4 linked regions of the Homo sapiens genome follow. The protein of the gene in region 1 purifies or fractionates together with the protein of each later gene. This does not show direct contact. Each region holds a gene or a part of one and is shown on either strand. Other genes may lie near its edges.

What was found. The genes of interacting proteins can lie anywhere in the genome.
Region 2: the proteins of RLN2 (region 1) and PCYOX1L purify together in Homo sapiens (affinity purification with mass spectrometry; one large-scale study listed by BioGRID and IntAct). This does not show direct contact.
Region 3: the proteins of RLN2 (region 1) and TENM3 purify together in Homo sapiens (affinity purification with mass spectrometry; one large-scale study listed by BioGRID and IntAct). This does not show direct contact.
Region 4: the proteins of RLN2 (region 1) and COL12A1 purify together in Homo sapiens (affinity purification with mass spectrometry; one large-scale study listed by BioGRID and IntAct). This does not show direct contact.

Annotation. Positions count from the first base shown.
Region 1 is NC_000009.12:5,301,917-5,305,972, forward strand, and holds the start of RLN2 (prorelaxin H2 isoform 1 preproprotein), read right to left. Parts: upstream 2,801-4,056; 5' UTR 2,665-2,800; coding exon 2,454-2,664; intron 2,350-2,453; exon of another isoform or gene 2,281-2,349; coding exon of another isoform or gene 2,180-2,280; intron 1-2,179.
Region 2 is NC_000005.10:149,364,546-149,368,045, reverse strand, and holds part of PCYOX1L (prenylcysteine oxidase 1-like isoform 1 precursor), read right to left. Parts: intron 2,105-3,500; coding exon 1,893-2,104; intron 687-1,892; coding exon 546-686; intron 54-545; coding exon 1-53. UniProt on the Homo sapiens protein: Likely to have oxidoreductase activity. Required in the mevalonate pathway to regulate prenylation and enhances the bactericidal activity of neutrophils.
Region 3 is NC_000004.12:182,249,902-182,253,401, reverse strand, and holds part of TENM3 (teneurin-3), read right to left. Parts: intron 1-3,500.
Region 4 is NC_000006.12:75,182,054-75,185,553, reverse strand, and holds part of COL12A1 (collagen alpha-1(XII) chain long), read left to right. Parts: intron 1-1,409; coding exon 1,410-1,700; intron 1,701-1,901; coding exon 1,902-2,504; intron 2,505-3,500. UniProt on the Homo sapiens protein: Type XII collagen interacts with type I collagen-containing fibrils, the COL1 domain could be associated with the surface of the fibrils, and the COL2 and NC3 domains may be localized in the perifibrillar matrix.

The sequences.
Region 1 (4,056 bases):
AATTTATATCGTTTTTGGTTAAATGAGAGGTTTTGGCATTTCCCCTCAGTAAGACATCCTAAGTTTAATTCAATTTCATCATAAAAACCTCTCTTTGATCCAACCTAAACTTTCTGTAGTTGGGGCCTTATTAAATACTGAAAGAAGCTGATGGTAATTTTCTATATACTTAAAGCCAGTTAAATGAGTCAGCCAAAACAGTTATAGTTTGTATTAGGTTTGTTCATAGGCTGTGTATTTTATACTTTTATTAAAATTATATTTTTAAACCTGTTTTGAAATATTTCATAATCCATAACACCTTTAGCTATGGAACCTAGGCTCAAAGAAAATATTCTGTCTGAATTCATACAAATACCCTTATTCACTTATTATTTTGGATGTAAATCTCACTAAAATAGGCCTCTTCTGGTTTAAAGGGTATCTTATTTTTAAAAGGGATGCAGTGAATATGATTTTAGCACATATTGTAGGATGAAATGGATGGCTAACAATGTAATAATGTGGAAGCAAATAGCAACTACCTAACAGTAGAAGTCTGAAAACTCAAATTAATCACAAATTACTGACATGTACTTCCAAAACGATTCCTACCTAGTAATGGTAAACATTTGTCTTAATCTCCACCTGCAGGCAATATTTTCTGAGGTTACTTTCAGTTAAATTATACTGCACATCAATAAAGAAAATTCTTTAAAAATACTTTGTAATCTCATGTCTCTTCAAAGGAAATAAAAATGTAGCCATATCTATATACAAATGTGCTTAATGAAGTATTTTCAGCAACAATTTAGAAATAAACTAAATATCCACCAAAGAATCCTTAAGTGTATGTGGCAGATTTATGACAAAAAATACTACACAGGAATTTCAAATTGTGTTTTGGGATAATAACAATGTGAGAAACTGCTCAAAGTATAATGGTGAGTGAAAATGCAAAAGATATATACATATACCTATCCAAATGTTAACATTTCTTTCCACTTACTTGTTTAATATAATTTCATTTTCTCATAAAATTCACATATACTTTTCAAAGTCCTTAATATCTACGAGTGCTTCTCATTTTTCACGCTGCATTAATGTACATTTGTCTTTAATATGAGCATTACTACTTTTATAGTCAGAAAATGTGGAATAATAAAGCAAATGCAATGCAATCCGGTCTTCTCTACTTTTTATCACTAAATTCCTAGACGTTGTGGTATTTTTGTACTAATGTTATACAAAAGTCATGTAAAAACTGCCATTAAATAAATCAAACTCTAACAATGTAGAAAAGTAAATAACTTTAGAAGCATACTTTAAATCTCATAAAAGAGAAGTAAATGTATTTCTGTTAGAGTCATTTATATATAGTATATGCATATAGCCTATAAAATTTAGTTGCGGTTTATCATAAATTACATGTCATACTAATACAAAACACTTAGTATTTGCAACTGCGGTTACTTTCTCTGAATTTAATATGACCCGTTACACTTCTTAGACTAGTATATACCTCCATGAGTTTCCACTGCTACTTTATAAATACTAAAATATTTTTAAAAGCCATTTCAGATTGAGCTGTACTCAACTCTAAGAGCTTGCCTTTAAAGCAAACCCACTGCAGCTTCCAAATGCTTGAAAGCATCAGTAGGGTCTTCAGCTATGATGGTCTGAACGGCCTGCTTTCCTTGTCTCTGGTCCTCTTGAGTTTCTCCTAAAGGCATTCAAGCCTTTCCTTTCTCTTCCATCCCCTGCCTCACAAATGAACTTCAATACCCAGATCAAAGAAGCGGGAGGTCAGACTCTTTCCTTTGGGATTTTCTGTTTGTTTATTTTAAAGAACGTTTCCAATGGCAAAGGCCACAGCCCAACTTCTGGACTAGGAGAGTCATTAAGTGTAAGGCCCTTCCTGTCTTCCCATCACGGGACCCTCACAGAGACCTCAGAGTGTTGCCCCGTCCTACAGGCGCGCAAACAGGCTTGATAACTAGCGCGCCGCCTCAGTGTTTGTCCCCTCTCCTCTCTATCCGAGAAGCCCTGTTCAGGTGCCCCCACCAGCACGCCCGCTGTCTGGCCGCCTGGCTTTCCTGTGGGGTGCAGGAGTGCGCCCGGCCTCCTGCGGGTCTCCGGGCGGCGTCACCTCCTCTGAGGCTTCCCCTCCCTTTCCACCCCGTCGCTCTGACTGCCTTACGGAAAGGGCACCAAGGAACTCTCGGGTGAAGCAGCTTCCTGTTCTCAGTGCTTTCCCTCCGTCCGGTGAGATTCCCAGTGAGACTGTTTGAATAAAATCACCTGGCAAAGGAAAAGCCCAAACTTTAGGGACCAGCCACGGCTGAGTAGGGGCTGAGCGGTGGCAGCCAATGAGATCTCGAGTCGGACGTGCAGGCCGCCGTTCCAATTGGGCGGCCGCCCCAGAGTAACCAATGGGAAGCGCGGGAAGGCCGGGAGGGGGCGGGAGCTCTCACCTGCCACTGGTCTAGGTGTCTGAGGAGCATCTTCCTGGCTCAGAGACCTTTTGCTCCAGGTGCTCATGCCGCAAATGGCAATCTGCGCGCGAACTAATTCGCGGCCGCATAATTTAATAACTTCCTCCATCCATGAGTCCGCGACTGCTCTGGAAAATTGGTTCAGTAGTAAACAGACTCCTAGCAGGTGGAAAAAAAACAGGCGAGGCATCCTGGGCCTGGTCTCTCCTGGAGGTCGGGACGTTGCAGCCTTTCAGGACTGCAGCTGCTGTGGCCTACACACCTGGGCCTGTGTGCCTGTCCCGGGCTTTAGGCTGCTTTCCCTACCCGGCTCAAGCGGTCTTTTGTATCCCTTGGGCTATCACTCAGCTTTTAAGGCAAGGGTGCCAGCTCCACCCCTTTCCCACACCCCTCCACAGAATTTTCCCCCTCAGCTCTTGGTCTCCCTCTCTGCCTTTCCTTCATTTGCCCATCCCTCTGTCCTTGGCCCTTTTACAGTTGTGTTCTTCTCATTCATTACCCTCAAACAATTTAGTATACTGAGGTAAAGTCATTTTAGATATGAAGCCTTTCCTTTTACACACACAGAAACAAATTTGAGATCACCCATATTCTTACAACTCAGTTTTCTAGAGTGAACATTTGCCAAAAAACCCTTCTAACCTAAATAAGATTATAGATTATCTTGTAAATTGGGTTAATTAGTATAGTGTTGGGTATATCAATCCATAAAAATATAAAAATAGAATGGATGAATAAATAAATTGTTGATGACAGGGAAAACTGATGACTTTTAATCTGAATGCAGGTAAAAACATTAAAATCCCCAGTAACATCATGTTAGGCTTGTGCAGTAATGTCTTTAATTTACAAAACAATTTCTCCATTGCACTTTCCTTCCACTCTTGGGGATAAATTTGATTGTAACTAGTTATCTGAACATTTTAATTTAAAATTCTAATCTACATCTCTGGAGACTGGAGAACATACCACACACACACACACACACACACACACACACACACACACACACAGAGAGAGAGAGAGAGAGAGAGAGAAGAAAAAAAAGCAGTGGAAATCCCACAATCCCACAAAGAATATTTTGGTAACAAATTACAGCACAAAGATATGTTTGTTTGTTTACTGTATTTTGTGTTTGCTGCACCTGGTAAGAGGTGATTTTTTACCATCATTTAATTTAACTTTCTAAAGATCCACACTGTTCTAGGTAATATGGTTAGTAGACAACCCTTCTACCTGTAAATTTTTAGTACAAGTAGGTTCATTTTTTAAAATAACTTACTTGCTTGTGTTCATAATATACTCAGATTAGTTCAGCTCCATCAGATAAACTGGAGACATGCAGGACATTAGGGTAGCTTTGAAATAAAAGAATAACAATCTCTTAGTTACAAACATAACTATGGAATCAAATAATTCTAATTTCTAGATTGCTGGTGATGTCAGTAGGCCCACTTAGCATTGGTCAAATGCCAAGCAATGTGTAATTCTTCAAAAAATACCTGACCAAGACTATGAGATGGTCAGATGCAATCAATGCTTTTAAATGAGTTTTCATTAAAACACGCAGTTTGAGAGAGGC
Region 2 (3,500 bases), on another chromosome or scaffold:
AGAGCTGTTGCCTACCTCATTCTCATACGCCACCTGGTACAGGGCTTTCCCCTCTGGAAAGAAAAGAGCACAAAAGTCAACTTTCCCTTGGCTTCTACCCACTGAACTCCCTACTGGGGTCCAGCATTGAGGTACAACGAGACCCTGGTGCTCAGGGTGCAGCAGGGCTGTCTAAATGGTGGGTCCTGGCCTCTCCATGCTGATGCGGCTGCAGAAGAAGCAAGGGGCATGGAGTCAGGAGACTCAGTTTCTGCTCTGCTTCCGCCGCTGGCCAGTTGGGGGAGCGTGGGCAAGGATGTCATTCAAAGTCCTCATCGGTCAACAGAAAAAGGCTGGGTCGATGGAAGTCTCAGCTTTCTGGCTGACATCTGAATTGGGGAAACAGCACCCTCTAGTGTCACCTGGCAGGGTTGGGGCTTCTCAATGCTTTTTCGGAAATACTCCCCAGGGGGATCACAGACCAGGGCTGAGGTACAAAGGAGGCAGAAGTGTCTGTCCACTGGCTGGGAATGGCATGCCTGCCCACTCCCGCCCTGTCTACTCACCTGTGCTGTGCAGGGTCACAGAGGTCACTGTGGCATGGATCACATTGGCCTTGGTGAGCTTCAGCAAACCGGAACAAACCAGCTTATTGCCTCCTTCCACAGACCACAGGCTGCCTTGGGCCCCGGCTAGTGACATGGCTCCTGGGCAAAGCGGGAAGTGGGTGCTGATAGGTTGTCAGGGCCGTGGGGCAGGAGGGCTGGGGAGTCCAGTACTATTCGACTGGGCCTCCCTGCCAGAGCAAAACTCTCCCAACCATGGGCATGGGGAGATGGCAAACATACAAGTAAGTACAACAAAGTGCACAATGCTATGGGGGGAAGACACTGTGCTCAACGAAAGAGCCAGCTCCCAGAGACCACATATTGTGAGGTCTATTTATGCAGAATGCCCAGACTAGGCAAATCCACAGAAACAGAAAGCAGATCTGTAGCTGCCCAGGGCTGGGAGGCCGGGGGGTGTTGGGGAGGTGAGGGCTAAAGGGCAAGGGGGTTTCTTTCTGGGGTGATAAAAATGTCCTAAAATTGATTGTGGTGATGGTTTTAGAACTCCGAATGTGCTAAAAACCACTGAATTGTGCAATTTAAATGGGCGAATTATATGGTATGTGAATTCTATATATCTCTACACAAAAATGCTATGAAGGAGACACACAAGATACTGAAAGAGTGAGCAAGGAACACTGAGGGGACACTGAGGCAGGGCCTGAAGGCTGCGAAGGAGCCAGCATGTGCAGAGCCAGATGAACAGTATCGAGGGTACGAGGGAGGTGCTTGTTATTGTAAACCTTTGCATTCATTTATTTAACAAAAATATACCCAGTGCCTAGTATGACTTAGGCACTGTTCTGTGTTTGCAATGTATCAGGGAACAATAGACAAGGATTCCTGCTCTTGTGAAGCCTACATTCTCCACTCCTGTGGTCTGTGCTAGCAGACAGTGAGCTACACACAGGCCCAGCCACTCCCGTGAAGAGCTGGGAAGAGGAGGTGCTCTCACAGTGGCTCAAAGGCCTCAACAGGGCAGTTCTTGAAACCAAAGTGTAGAGAGCAGAGCATTATCTCAGCTCTAACATTTACACACATGCAAGGGATTATGAAGCAATTGGGAGTGGTAGAAACACACTGGACCTGTGATCTGAGCCTTGCTTTCACTGTCTGTGAAGTGGGGTGATACTATCTCCTGCCAACTCATGGCCAGTCCCAGAATCAGGCAGGATGGGGCAGCAGAGTGCCTATGTGACTGCAATGAGCTGGATAAAAGTGAGGTTATTATGGGGACCCCCAGCCCATTCTGAGCACCTTGGGTGGAGGAGGGGCAGGTGGGCAGGCCAAGGGTTGGACGCTTACCTGCAAAGGCGGGCATCGCTGCTGACTGGCCATAGCTGGCCCGCAGGACAGCAGAAACGACATCATCAATAAAGCGCTGCGTGACGCCCACCTGCAGCAGGGACTCAGCCACAGAGTGCTGGGTCATGTTAACAAAGGTGGACTCCCCCAGTGAGTAGAGCAGCTCCTCCACACCCGAGAAGGCATAGCCGTGGGCCTGGTACTTATAGATCCTAGAAGACACATAGAGCTGGAGTCCTTGTGCAGGAAGGCTTTTTGCCTGACCACCTGCCCCTGGGTTATAGTGCCTGGGAGGCCCACCAGGAACCCATCACTTCCTCTACATGGAGTGGTGGCAGAAGAGGCTGGTCATGTTCCCTGGCACCTGTTCTCTGACTGTGGCGGGCCTGTCCCACCTAAAGGGAGTGTGAAGGTATGGAATCCTTCTAGGCCTGGCTTCACATCACGGCTGTGCTGAGTAACAACTGTATCACTGCTCTGAGCCACTCCCTGCCTGAGGTCATAGTTCATAACCCTTTCTTCACCCAGCTGGGGCTACGGCCCACCCCTGCTGACACATCTCCTTCTCCAACAGTGTCGGTTCTGCCACAGCTTCTAGGACCTGATGACACACTGCAACTTCATGCTGATACTGTCACCTTCTCTGCCAGTCCAGCCTGTCCTCTCCTCTCGCTTCATCTGACAGGGCTCCCACTCACCCCCAGGCTCATGTCCTGTCGCTCTATCACTCATGCAATCTCACTAGCATGGATTGGAACCATCGATGGATTTCCTGACTGGCTGGCCTTTGAAATGTTGCCCATTCTAGGGCTTCTTTTGTAAACATGTTGAGTTTGGTTATCAATAGGACACGAGATGGAGGTGTCCAGAAAGTTGAAATGTGGGTCTGGAAGTGAAGAGGAAACTAGGGCTGAGAGGGAGAAGTCATTTCCCATAAAACGTAGAAGTCAACATTATTGGTCTGGATATAATTGATAAGGGAGAAAAATATCAGAAAGAGAGGTAAGGAAATAAGCTTTGGGTGACATCTGGAGAATATAAGGAAGAAGTGCTATAAACAGCAGAGTTATAGAATGGGAAGGGAGTGGAGAAGTGCCAGGAACCAGGGCAGGAGGGCACAGGCCACACTTGAGTGACACTGAAGGGAGGCAGACAGTGATGGGGTCCGGGGAGCAGCCCCTGCGCCTTAGGCTGGAAGCAGGGAGCACCTTCAGGAGGGACTTTGGGGAAAGGTGGAGTGACAGCTTGGTGAACAGGGAGGGAACAGACCACTTGCCCTCCACATCTGGGACCAAAGGTGATGGGGAGGGGGCTGGAGCCCAGGGATAGGAGGAGTGGTGAAGAAAGGTGTTTATTCTAGATGGAAAAATGAGGACAACAAAGTTTGCAAATGAGTGGTCCACAGGCTGCATCTGCCCTGCAGAAGTGTTTCATTTGGCTTACAAGATGAATTGGTTGCAAATGTTGAAAAACTGAAAAGATTTCACACACGACTCTGGATTTCCAGCTTCTTCTGAAAAGTGAGTAGATCTAGCCACATGAGGTGGGCATTGTACACGGCTGGCTGCAGATGGCTGCGGTGGAGGGCTGGCTGCCTCCTTCAGAGGG
Region 3 (3,500 bases), on another chromosome or scaffold:
TCCTGGGTGCAAGTGATTCTCCTGCTTCAGCCTCCCAAGTAGCTGGGATTACAGGCACGTGCCACTACACCCGGATAACTCTTTGTATTTTTAGTAGAGATATGGTTTCACCATGTTGGCCAGGCTGGTCTCAAACTCCTGACCTCAGGTGACCCACCCACCTCGGCCTCCCAAAGTGCTAGAATTACAGGTGTGAGCCACCACACCCGGCCTCTTGGTATAATTCTTACTGGGGATGATGGAGCAACATGAAGCCAGTGTTTCTGGATGTTCACAGACTTGTGTTAAACCCTAAAGTAAAATGTGACACAAGAGAGATAAAGCCTCTATTGTTTAAAACAAACAAATAAAAAAATCATTTTCTTTCTCCTTTCAGAGGTAGTTTCGTGTCTGCCGGCAGAGTTCATGGGAAAATATAGCCAAGGCCTTTGATACAGAGAGGCCTGGGTCCAGATCCTTGCTCTACAAATTCTGTGACTTTGGGCCGATTCTTCACCTACATGAAGCTGGGTTTCTTTGTCTGCCGAACTAAGAGCAACTACTGCTCCAAATTGAAAGGACTGTTGTGACTGTTGCAATGTGATTAAATGAGACACACGGTGAAGCTCCTGGCACTTAACGGACACTGAATAAATGCCGATTTGCTTCCTTTTATTAGCCAGGTGTCATTTTATGTATAAAATTTCTCAGCTAAAGTACTGAGCCCAAAGGTATCCCAGAGCCTTTTTATAATAATTATGCCATTTAAATATGCAGGTAAATTCTGTGAGTAGGATAAGCCTCTACGTAACAGTGATCTGGAAAAAAATAACAATAGGAGGGACTCTGAAGGTCTATGAAGAAAGTCTGAGTGGAAAAAATCTTATTTAAAAGTCAGTTGCTCAATAAATTGTAAGTCAGTAGTTATGTTTATTGCATTCTTTATTTTAATATTCATGTATTTTAAGTATGCTGATTTGCCAACTGCACACTAAATCACATCGTTATTTAAATTTTTTTCCCTTTCAAATCTCCATGAAAGCAATTTCTACTCTCACAGCAGCATACAACTGATGGAGAGATTTTAGAGGTCTTAAAAGCTTTGCACTCCATATTTGTTTGACTCATAAGGAGCATAATGAAAGAAAGTCGTGTGTATACTTAAATAATTAAGAGCAATTGACTGGTCTGGACGTGTGACATTCTCAGCAACCACATTTTTTTGTTGTTTTTTTTTTTTGAGATGGAGTCTCACTCTGTTGCCGAGGCTGGAGTGCAGTGGCGTAATCTTGACTCACTGCAACCTCCACCTCTTGGGTTCAAGCAATTCTCCTGGCTCAGCCTCCCGAGTAGCTGGGACTACAGGCATGTACCACCACACCCAGCAAGTTTTTGTATTTTTCGTAGAGATGGGGTTTCACCATGTTGGCCAGGCTGGTCTCCAACTCCTGACCTCAGGTGATCTGCCCACCTCAGCCTCCCAAAGTGCTGGGGTAACGGGCATGAGCCACAGCACCTGCCAGCAATCTCATTTAATTCAAATGCAGGTATTCAAAGTAACATATTGAAATGAATAAAGTAACCCACTGTAATGGATAGATCTCATTTACAGTCACCAAGAATTTTATGTTCTGTGCATGTTTTAACCCAAAGTTGGAGAGAGCATCTTTACTTGTAAGATACACAGTGTCAGCATGTATCATGAAACTTAAACAGATTTCTCCCATTTAAGAAGACAGCACTTACACCTCGAGGAGGGAATAGAATTCTAGTGATTACTAAACAATCGACCATCTCATTTTATATCTTAAGTTCAGAGTTGTAAAAGGGTGACTCTATACTGGGAAAGAAGGCCCACCTAGTATGAAAAAGCATAGCCGTAATTTAATTTTCTCCCACACTTTTCCATTTTAACAGTAAAAGACAACTTCCCATCATCGCTTTTGTTTTGTTTTGAGACAGGGTCTCGCTGTGTCACCCAGGCTGGAGTTCAGTGGTGTGATCATGGCTCACCGCAACCTGGACCACCTGGGCTCGAGTGATCCTCCCACTTCAGTCCCCCACGTAGCCAGGACTACGGGCACATGCCACAATGCCTGGATAATTTTTTATTTTTGTAGAGACAGGGTCTCGCTATGTTGCCCAGGCTGGTCTGGAACTCGTGGCCTCACCCAATCCTCCTGCTTCTGCCTCCCAAAGTGCTGGAATTACAGGCATGAGCCACTGTGCCCAGCCCCCATGATGACTTTCTAAGTGGAAAGGTTTTTTTCAGTTCCCAAAATTGATAACCTGGAAATCCAGACCTCAAAATGCAGTCCTTTAATTAAGGCCCCGAACCCTTCAAATGAAGATGTCTTTGGGACTCTGGAACACTGAGAGGCTCTGCTGATTGGTGGGAAAGGCTCTTGTCTCTGGGCAAATCTCTCACTGTTTAGAGCCTTTAGATAGTTAAGAAAATCAAATGTGAACAAACCCTTGTTTGCATAACAAATTCTTATCCATCTGAAATGCCGCACCATTAAATAAGCTTCCAGCTGGAATCAGGTGACAGTTGGTGCGGGAGACCTTATCAATTCACCATTGCATGTTTAATATTCTATGCACTACGTGAGAATTTCTACAGTGTGAATGTTTTTAGTCAACAGAAATATAAAAATGCTTATTTTTAAAATATTAAATCTTCATTAACCTGGAAAAATGCGGTTAGCCAGAATGACTAATTTCCTGGAGGTTATAGATAGTTTAGGTTTTTCTCTACTAGCTGGAAATCATTCACACGTAAGAATTCTTTGGCTTTACAAAAAAGTCACTGATCTGTCCAAACATGAACCAAATTCGTTAGCGATTTCCCTCCAACATGTAGTACACTGAAGTGGGAAATCTGGGGTTTGGCAAAGGAAAACCTACATTCAAAATCTCACTCTATCCTTTACGAGTTGTGTTACCTTAGGTAAGTTACTTAACTTTTCTGTTTCTCTTTCTATTCCATTTCCTCATCTGCCAAATAAGGATAATAAGGCCAAGTGGTGCATTAAAACAAAAGATGTAACAGTTGAAAAATAACTAGAACAGGCCAGGCGCAGTGGCTCACACCTGTAATCCCAGCACTTTGGGAGGCTAAGGCGGGTGGATCATGAGGTCAGGAGATCGAGACCATCCTGGCTAACACAGTGAAACCCCGTCTCTACTAAAAATACAAAAAAGTAGCCGGGCGTGGTGGCGGGCGCCTGTGGTCCCAGCTACTCGGGAGGCTGAGGCAGGAGAATGGCGTGAACCCAGGAGGCAGAGCTTGCAGTGAGCCCAGATCGCACCACTGCACTCCAGTCTGGGCGACAGAGCAAGACTCCGTCTCAAAAAAAAAAAAAAAAGAAAAAAGAAAAGAAAAAGAAAAATGACCAGAACAGTGCAGACCACATAGTTGTTTGCAATCAAATCATTTTTAACAGCTGACTAAGCCTAGACAACATAGCGAGACTCCATCTCTTAAAAAAAAGTAGCCAGGCATAGTGGTGCATACTTGT
Region 4 (3,500 bases), on another chromosome or scaffold:
GATTGCTTTTGGCAGTATGGCCATTTTAATGATATTGATTCTTTCTATCTATGAGCATGAAATGTTTTTCCATTGTCATCTCTGATTTCTTTGAGCAGTGGTTTGTAGTTCTCCTTGTAGAGATCTTTCACCTAACTAGTTAGCTGTATTCCTAGGTATTTTATTCTATTATTCACAACTCCCATTGTGAATGGGATTTCGTTCCTGATTTAGCTCTCAGCTTGACTGTTGTTGTGTATAGGAATGCTGGCAATTTTTGCACATTGATTTTATATCCTGAGACTTTGCTAAAGTTGTTTATCAGCTTAAGAAGCTTTTGGGCTGAGACATTGCAGTTTTCTAGAGGGATTATGTCATCTGCAAACAGGGATAGTTTGACTTCCTTTCTTCATATTTGGATGCTTTTTATTCCTTTTTCTTGCTTGATTGCTCTGGCCAGAACTTCCAATACTATGTTGAATAGGAGTGGTGAGAGAGGGCAACCTCATCTTGTGCTGGTTTTCAAGTGAAATGCTTCCAGCTTTTGCCTATTCAGTATAAACATCACTTTTATGTCCTACATCTGGTTGCTTTTTTGAGGAGGCGATGTGTAAATTTGGGCCTGTTTTTACACACACTTCCTGCAGGTTGATTTGTGAAAAATTATAACTATATCTTCCGGGAAGTTGATTCCATTGACAAATCCAGAATTTTGATATTGTCTGAAATATCTTAAAATACTTTACGTTAACTGTCAAATACATGACTATGTTCTATGTTGAGTAAGGATCACCATTTTTTAGAGGACTGATATGCATGCGTTAATATGCATGTTATAAGCCATTGTTTCCCCTCTGTTTGGTGGCACTGTGAACATAGTTGAACTTTTTTTCTTACCCTGAAACTAGTGAAAATAAAATTGTTTAAAATTATAAGAACCTGTCATTTAAGAAGTACTAAATGCTTTCTCTTTCTTGGCATATTATAAAGTATCTTTTAAAGATTACACTTTTATGATGTTATTAAGAGAGAAAAATTCCCTAAAGAATTGAATGAAGCATTGATTTAACAAATATTTATCAAGTGCCTACTTTGGTGCTTGAGAATGAAGACAATGAGTGAATACCAAAACCAGAATGGAAATCTTGGTTTCAGAGAAGAATTAGGCATGAAGTGTCCCAACATTAATTTCTTCCAAATACTTTCTTATTCCATTAACTTCTCAGCAATTTGACTAAAAGCCAAGTGTTGAACCACTTTTGGTTTGATAGGGACATGTGAAATTGGGGACTGAGGCGGGTATTGGGCAACTCTTTTCAATGTATTTAGGATGAATTTGAATAAGGAGATTTGAAGGTCCAAACCTAAAGACCAAATTAGTAAGGTTACATCTCACTGTTATTAATCACTGTCTGCTTGTAACTTTTTAGTTGTTGAGCCTCCTTCAAATTTGATTGCCATGGAAGTCTCTTCAAAATATGTTAAGCTAAATTGGAATCCATCTCCTAGTCCAGTGACTGGCTACAAAGTCATCCTCACACCAATGACTGCAGGAAGCCGACAGCACGCTCTGAGTGTGGGGCCTCAGACAACCACGCTCAGTGTTCGCGACCTCTCAGCAGACACAGAATACCAGATCAGTGTTTCCGCCATGAAGGGAATGACATCCAGTGAACCCATTTCAATAATGGAGAAGACTCAGCCAATGAAAGTTCAAGTGGGTAAGTCAATGTGTGCATCATTGTATTTGGAATATGTGAAGATCTGTTTGACAGAATGCCTTACTTGTTTGGACTTAGTTTTGAATGAAATATTTGCAATAGTTTTTTTTTTAAAGAAGCACGCTTACTAAGAAAGCTAGATATGTATATTTTAATGATTAATATGTATTGAAGTTTAATGTACTTTTTTTCTCTTTACAGAATGCTCACGTGGTGTGGATATAAAAGCCGATATTGTGTTTTTGGTTGATGGCTCCTATAGCATTGGGATTGCAAACTTTGTTAAAGTTAGAGCCTTTTTGGAAGTTCTTGTAAAAAGTTTTGAAATTTCACCAAATAGGGTCCAGATTAGTCTTGTGCAATACAGCCGGGATCCTCATACTGAGTTCACTTTGAAAAAATTCACCAAAGTTGAAGATATAATTGAAGCAATAAACACCTTCCCTTACAGAGGAGGATCTACAAATACTGGCAAAGCAATGACTTATGTCAGAGAGAAAATATTTGTGCCTAGCAAGGGATCAAGAAGCAATGTGCCAAAGGTCATGATTCTTATCACGGATGGGAAATCATCAGATGCTTTCAGAGATCCTGCGATAAAACTGAGGAATTCAGATGTTGAAATCTTTGCAGTTGGTGTGAAGGATGCCGTTCGCTCAGAATTGGAAGCTATTGCCTCTCCTCCTGCAGAGACCCATGTGTTCACAGTGGAAGATTTTGATGCTTTTCAGAGGATATCTTTTGAACTCACACAGTCTATCTGCCTTAGAATTGAGCAAGAATTGGCAGCTATAAAGAAGAAAGGTTAGTAGACTTTGAGAGTAAAAGTTATTTCTTCATGAACAAAGAATTTTTGGTTCTAAAATTGTGGATAATATGCTTGTTCAATTCTTCTTATAGACACGAAAAAGTAACTTTCCTATGTTATTGAAAACTATTGAACTTAGTTTTCTTAGCTCTGAGATATGACTTTCTCCTGGATATGGATCATATTTTAGTTGGTGAAAAAGCTGTTTAGTTACAAGAGTCATGAGATGTTTCTGTTCCTAGATTGTCAAGCAGGTTTAGGAACAAGTTTTATCATATGTATGTGTCATTTACAATCCAAATCCCATGTATGGGGTGTTCACTATGTGCTGGATACTGAGCTGGGTCCTTCAACTCAAAGGTGAAGAGAATATAGTCTTGCACCTTTGGATTCTTTTTATGCATTTCCTTTCCTGAATCATTTTGGGCATCATTTGTCACATCTGGAATTTTCCTCATTTGTCTGATCTACTTTTCAATGTGTAGTTAAAAGTCCCATCCCTTGAGTTTGTGTCCTTTTCAGGGACATGGATGAAGCTGGAAACCATCATTCTCAGCAAACTAACACAAGAACAGAAAACCAAACACTGCATGTTCTCACTCATATGTGGGAGTTGAATAATGAGAACACATGGACACAGGGGTGGCGGCATCACACACCGGGACCTATAGGAAGGTGGGGGGGCTGGGGGAGGGATGGCATTAGGAAAAATACCTAATGTAGATGACGAGTTGATGGATGCAGCAAACCACCATGGCACATGTACACCTATGTAACAAAACTGCACGTTCTGCACATGTACCCCAGAACTCAAAGTATTATAATAATAAAAAGTCCCATCCTTTTCATTAAGCCTTCCTAAACTGTAACTGTCCTAGCACTATCATGCTATCACTTTCACTCAGTTGGCTTTCCTATGTACTGTTTTTTTTTCTTTTTTTTTTTTTTTTGAGACAGGGTCTCACTCTGTCACCCAGGCTGGAGTGCAGTGG